Linked DNA regions of Homo sapiens. The protein of the gene in region 1 interacts with the protein of each later gene in a biochemical or structural test. Each region holds a gene or a part of one and is shown in the gene's direction. Other genes may lie near its edges.

Region 1 (3,657 bases):
GGATATTCAGAAGCTGAGGTTCCCTAGTCATTGCACAGAATACATACTAGTATGTGACCCCCAAGAAAAACAGAGTGCGGATGCACATTTCAACATTAGTGTTAGTGACACTGGCACCTAAAGTGAGCCCTTTTCATTTAGTGCTGGAATTTATATAGACCATCCTAAGAGGCACTGATGAGTTTGATAGTGCCTTCAGTGAACTGAGATGGAAGACTGATACTGTTGTTCCACCCAAGATGTTTTTGTAAAGAACAGCTGGGCTTTAATGTCATTGTGGTTTGTGTGGTTTATACATGCAACATTCTGTTTTAGTGCCCAGTGTTTTAGTAATGGATATAAAAATGACTTCTCTGGAAATGCAGATTATCTTCTAGTTTCATGCCTCTGAGCATCTGTGGAGCTTCCCCATCACCTTTTATCAAATGACCATAGAATCCAGCAGTCTGTATCAGCTGTTGTCAGATGTTGGTGACAGGCAAAAGGGCTCATTTCTACAGCCCCGAACCTGCCAACTGTAAACAGGTAGGTTGCATGAAGCTATCAGTGGGTGTCTCTGAAGAGTCACATGCTTAATTCATTTAAAGAATATACTCCACTCAAGTCTTAAATAAGGTGTTGGAGCTGCTGAGTGGGGAGGTTTATGTAGAAAGGCTGTGCTCCAAGGGCTTCTCTGCTATTGGCTGTAGGGAAGCATTGTGGGCATCCCAAGCCCTCCCTCAGTGGCCCAGTACATTTGGCAGCTGGACCAAGCCCTTATGCATCATTTGACACATCTAGCAATGCTGATTTCAGTAGGAGCCAGGATTCTGCCATTAAAAGGCAAGAAAATTTGGCCAAGCATTTTTCAGCAGGATTGGAATCAAATGATTATTGATAGGATCAAATAAGACACTAAGTGTAACTGGATGAGCTCCCCATGACCTCCAGAGAGACAGCCAGCCTATTGAAAAGCACTTCGGGCCTTGTGGTGATCATACTTGGAACAGCCTGGTCTCTCCTTTCTCTGAGGACATATGCTGTCTGCAGTTAGGCAGCTGGCCATGCAGGACTAGCCTCTCTCACATTATCATTGCCTCCCCAGCCTCATTCAGATACAGTCTCCATTGCAGACATCCCCATGGAGTAGATACACCTTGCTATACCATGTTCTGTGTTTCAGACAACATGTATCATTATGGTTCCGTTCATTTTCCCTATGAAAATTCAAGGTTAGGTTCTGACACTGGGATTGATTTTGCTATTTATCATGTTTGGAGAAATGGGTTTATTATTTTTATATAGGCTCTGATTTATAGAAAAGGCATTTAACTCTTCTATGATGTGGGCTCTTCAATTATACAGAAGGAAAGTAGGCACAGCTCAGCTTATTTTCTTCCTGTGTCTGCCCAAGTGTCTTGTCTGGAGGTACACAATGATGCTGATGGGGCTATTTGTGGGGGAGGGAAGAGCTGATTGTTCTTCCATGTTTTGTGGTGAGGGGCCTGGAGCAGCCCATTTGGCTCAGACCAAAGATAGCTTCCTAAACCTGAGCAGGACCATGACTAAAATAGTAAAAATGAAAAAGCACCAGTTAGGAGAAAGCAAAACCGTTGCATTGCTTGTGATTTGGGCTGTCTGAGAGGACAGAAAGATGTCTGAGAGGCCTTATAATGCATGAAATGCTAATGGTTTTTCCTTGTGGGTTACTGTGAATTCAGAAATAGGATCGGCATTTCAAGTCTGAGGCAGATCCCAAATTCACCCATTCATGGAGAAGAGGTGAAGAGGCAGTTTCTGGGACTGTATTAATGGTTCTGGCCTCTCCCAGGACAGCCCAAATCATAGAAAAGATGTCTGTCTGCAAGGCTGGCATGTTGCCCACAGCTCCAGTTTGTATCCTGGCTTACAGGTGTTTTGAGATCTGTTTCTGCTGTCACCCAGGCAGAGGGCTAGGGGATGATGACTCATGGGATAGGAGGCCTATTTCCCTGTAAGCACTCCCTCCCCACCCAGGAAAGTGGATACATGACTTTGGATTTTACATGTACTATGGAGAGGCCTGAGCAATTTAGAGATGTATGCAATGCAATATATCTGACCTTTGAACTCCCATATCTGTCAGTCCCTTCCCATTTCATTTCTGGAGTGGGCAGAGAGAGCAAAGGAGGATGGAGAGGAAATTGGAGCTCCCAGAAGGGATATCAGTTATTGGAGGTGAATTGGGAGAATTGGAACTAGTCCAGAGAAGAGCAGAGAGCTGATTTAACAGTTGAAGGGACTGATTTACAATGAAAGATGAAAAGAATTAAATATATATGGCTGGGCTAAATGGCGATGAAGGGAAAGCCATGGTAACAATCTACAAATCTCTGAAGAGAGAGAGTGGCAGTGAAGGAGAGGAGTTATTTAGCGTGGCCCATGGAAGTAATTGGATCATACTTGTAGAAGCAAACTTCGGGTTGGATATCAGGGAAACCTTGTTTTCTGACATTGATATTCCTCTGACTATGGAATGGAATTCCAATGGAGTGGGGAGTCAGGTGAGATGTGGGTCAGACAAGTCCCAGCATTCCTAATTAATCAGTTCTATATTTTCACATATTGAGAAGCTACAACAGGACAGAGAGCTGGGATGCAGAATGGCAGAAGGAATCAGAACCTTTTTATGATCCAAACCCTGGAGCCTTTGGGCATTGGTGTTTTTAGAGGAAAAGAAAAGAATTGCATATACATCTTTGAAGTTGGTGAGAAGCACTTAAGAAATTGTTAATGACAAATATTTTGAAATTACTGAATTTATTCTTCCCTGCCCTCCAATTAAACATAGATTATTTCTCTGGGGTGCGATCTGTATATCCAGGGGTTTGGGAGGCACAATCACCAGAGAATTGTGTATCTAAGATACATCTATGGGTGAGGGTATATGACAAAGCATCACTGAGCAGGGCAAAAGGTGACCTGTGTCTTGAGAAGATGCCATCAGTTCTAGATTTGGTGGACTCCTACTGGCTACTTAAAAATCCCTTTAAATGTTGAGAATCTATATTGCCATTTGAAAGATGAAGTTCATCCACATCCAATTTAACATTTCAAAAATTTTTAAAAGAGAAAGAAGGTCCATGAGGGGTTTTTGTGTAAGGCATGGGAGGAGAGTGTGATTATTAATAAAAATGGGTATCTAGGCTGGCCGCAGTGGCTCATGCCTGTAATCCCAGCATTTTGGGAGGCCGAGGAGGGCAGATCACTTGAGGTCAGGAGTTCGAGATCAGCCTGGCCAACATGGTGAAACCCTGTCTCTACTAAAAATAAAAAAATTAGCCAGGCATTGTGGCATGCGCCTTAGTTCCAGCTACTCAGGAGAGTTGCTTGAACCTGGGAGTTGGAGGTTTCAGTGAGCTGAGATTGTGCCACCTCACTTCAGCCTGGGCAACAGAGTGAGAAAGGAATATCTATAAGGAAGTTGGTCTGCTGAAAATCAGGAGGAACTGGCCTGAAGGTGGGAGAAGAAAAGAATGAGAGTTGATCAGCAGAAGTCTCAGTGCCCTGCCACTCAGGATCACTGCCTGGCAACCTCACAACATGGAAATTTTTCCAGTCTGACCTGTAAAGGAAATTTTGCCTTTCTTTATAATCATTATTAGTGTCCTGTTATGGTTATTTGGAACTTTACAATTT
Region 2 (3,047 bases), on another chromosome or scaffold:
TTGGTTTTACCCAAACTGTTACTGAGAAGTGTTTTTGAGGCATGTTTTCAACAGAACATATTGCAAAGTTGCTTTCCTCAAAGGGGTGAATGTTCCTTGACCAGGATGAGAGCAGAATATTAATTTTGTATCAGGCTATCGTCCTGTACCGATTTAGAACTCTATGAATATGTGCTGTGTTTTTGAGTCTAGCAGGGAATGTTCTAGATGCCTGGGTACATTGCGTGCTCTGGGGTGAGCTTGGTGGTTGTTGTGGAAAGAGTGAAATTCAACTCCTGTGTTGGTCAAAAGAGAGATTTTCTTTTTTCTGCTATAATTATATAAAGTAGTATTTCTCAATCTTTTATCCTTTTTTGAGAAACATAGAACTCTTATCCCTGCTACTAGAGTCTAATCTCTTTTTTATATTTTGAAAACAATACTTATTCATATGAAAGCATTTGACAATATATTTTTCTCTCCTCTTTTTTTTTTTTTTGAGACGGAGACTTGCTCTGTCACCGGGCTGGATTGCAGTGGTGCGATCTCGGCTCACTGCAACCTCTGCCTCCTGGGTTCAAGCGATTCCCCTGCCTCAGCCTCCCAAGTAGCTGGGACTACAGGCGTGTGCCACCATGCCCAGCTAATTTTTTTTTTGTATTTTAGTAGAGATGGGGTTTCACCATGTTGGCCAGGATGGTCTCGATCTCCTGACCTCATGATCCGCCCGCCTCGGCCTCCCAAATTGCTGGGATTACAGGTGTGAGCCACCGTGCCTGGCCTCAATATATTTTTCTCTTACTCTTCCTTCCCCAATCCTGCTTCCTGGAGGTAGCCAATGTTTATAGTTTGGTGTACATCTTTATAAGACTCTTTATGTACATCTGTAAACACACACACACACACACGCACACACAGTACTTTGAAAAAATTGGATGCTGTTTTTTTTTTGAGATGGAGTCTTGCTCTGTTGCCCAGGCTGGAGTGCAGTGGTGCCATCTCAGCTCACTGAAACCTCAACCTCCTGGGTTCCAGCGATTCTCCTGCCTCAGCCTCCTGAGTAGCTGGGATTACAGGTGTGTGCCACCACGCCCAGCAAATTTTTGTATTTTTAGTAGAGACGGGGTTTCACCATGTTGGCCAGGCTGATCTCGCACTCCTAACCTGAGCCGATCTACCTGTCTTGGCCTCCCCAAAGTGCTGGGATTACAGACAGGAGCCACCGCGCCTGGCCAGATCCTGTTTTATGTATGTTGCTTCTCTGTGATTTTTTTTCTCCTCTTATAATATCATGGATATTTTTCTGTGTCAGCTTATACCCTTGTTTCCTCTTTTCTTCATCACTATCCACAGATTCTGATATACCTACCTGAAGGATAGTCCTCATCCAGCTCCACCTGATCATCTCCTTTTAACCTCGCTCCTCGGTTGAGCATTACAGTTGATTCTTACTCTGTACAGTCTCACTAGCCAAGGCAATCTTGTTGGACATTTGATTGTTCGAATGTGTGTGTGCATTTTTTCCTCTACATTTCCTCCTTCCTTTGCCCTTCCCTGAGACTGTGGCATTTTTCCTTGGGGAGGGGAGGTGTGGAGTGTGCTCTTCTGGTTGAGAATCATTGAGGAAGGACATCTTGCTTCTGTGATTTCAGATTTCACTGCAATGTTGTTACCTCTTGAAACATGTTCGCTTGAACCGTTTGCTGTTGGGTGGATGGGGTTTGGGAGTTGGGCGGGGGAATGACCTGTTTGAAAATAATTTTGGGTGCTAATTTCTGGGACCCATGTTCATTTTCTGTCTCTCTCTTTCGTTTTTCTATCAGGACCAGTATGTTTTCCTCAATCAGTGTGTTTTGGATATTGTCAGATCCCAGAAAGACTCAAAAGTAGATCTTATCTACCAGAACACAACTGCAATGACAATCTATGAAAACCTTGCGCCCGTGACCACATTTGGAAAGACCAATGGTTACATCGCCTAATTCCAAAGGAATAACCTTTCTGGAGTGAACCAGACCGTCGCACCCACAGCGAAGGCACATGCCCCGATGTCGACATGTTTTTATATGTCTAATATCTTAATTCTTTGTTCTGTTTTGTGAGAACTAATTTTGAGGGCATGAAGCTGCATATGATAGATGACAAATTGGGGCTGTCGGGGGCTGTGGATGGGTGGGGAGCAAATCATCTGCATTCCTGATGACCAATGGGATGAGGTCACTTTTTTTTTTTTTCCCCCTTGAGGATTGTGGAAAACCAGGAAAAGGGAGCTATGATTTTTTTTTCCAAAACAATTTCTTTTTTAAAAAAGACTATTTTATATGATTCACATGCTAAAGCCAGGATTGTGTTGGGTTGAATATATTTTAAGTATCAGAGGTCTATTTTTACCTACTGTGTCTTGGAATCTAGCCGATGGAAAATACCTAATTGTGGATGATGATTGCGCAGGGAGGGGTACGTGGCACCTCTTCCGAATGGGTTTTCTATTTGAACATGTGCCTTTTCTGAATTATGCTTCCACAGGCAAAACTCAGTAGAGATCTATATTTTTGTACTGAATCTCATAATTGGAATATACGGAATATTTAAACAGTAGCTTAGCATCAGAGGTTTGCTTCCTCAGTAACATTTCTGTTCTCATTTGATCAGGGGAGGCCTCTTTGCCCCGACTCCGCTTCCCCTGCCCCCTGTACATTTGTGCTCCATTTTTTCTTCCCTTTTCCCTCCCAGTTTTCTCCAAAGACTCTTCTGTTGGCAACATTTTCAACCCATTGGTTGGGTGAGAATGGCGACTCAAATATCACCTTGAGAATTTCTGTGGGTGGGAATGGGAGAAGCAGAGGAATCCTACAGTGGCAGAAATCCTTTTCTTGTCCCTGTATTATCCTTTTTCTCATGTCTGTATTTGGTATGAAGGATTATTTAAAGGTGCAATATGTGAATTAGTGATTCATGATGTTCTAGGTTTTTAGTAACGTTTTACTCAGGTTGGCATTTTATGTGTCTGTGTCTGTATGTGTGTGTGTATGTTCAGAAGCGTGGCAATCTGTGAACACTTCAGCGTG

The links. Proteins that work in one complex are often made in the same cells at the same time.
Region 2: of the proteins of ALK (region 1) and PTPRJ, one has a biochemical effect on the other in vitro, tested with the Homo sapiens proteins (one large-scale study listed by IntAct).

The regions. Positions count from the first base shown.
Region 1 is NC_000002.12:29,915,026-29,918,682, reverse strand, and holds part of ALK (ALK tyrosine kinase receptor isoform 1 precursor), read left to right. Parts: intron 1-3,657. UniProt on the Homo sapiens protein: Neuronal receptor tyrosine kinase that is essentially and transiently expressed in specific regions of the central and peripheral nervous systems and plays an important role in the genesis and differentiation of the nervous system.
Region 2 is NC_000011.10:48,165,402-48,168,448, forward strand, and holds part of PTPRJ (receptor-type tyrosine-protein phosphatase eta isoform 1 precursor), read left to right. Parts: intron 1-1,802; coding exon 1,803-1,961; 3' UTR 1,962-3,047. UniProt on the Homo sapiens protein: Tyrosine phosphatase which dephosphorylates or contributes to the dephosphorylation of CTNND1, FLT3, PDGFRB, MET, KDR, LYN, SRC, MAPK1, MAPK3, EGFR, TJP1, OCLN, PIK3R1 and PIK3R2. Plays a role in cell adhesion, migration, proliferation and differentiation.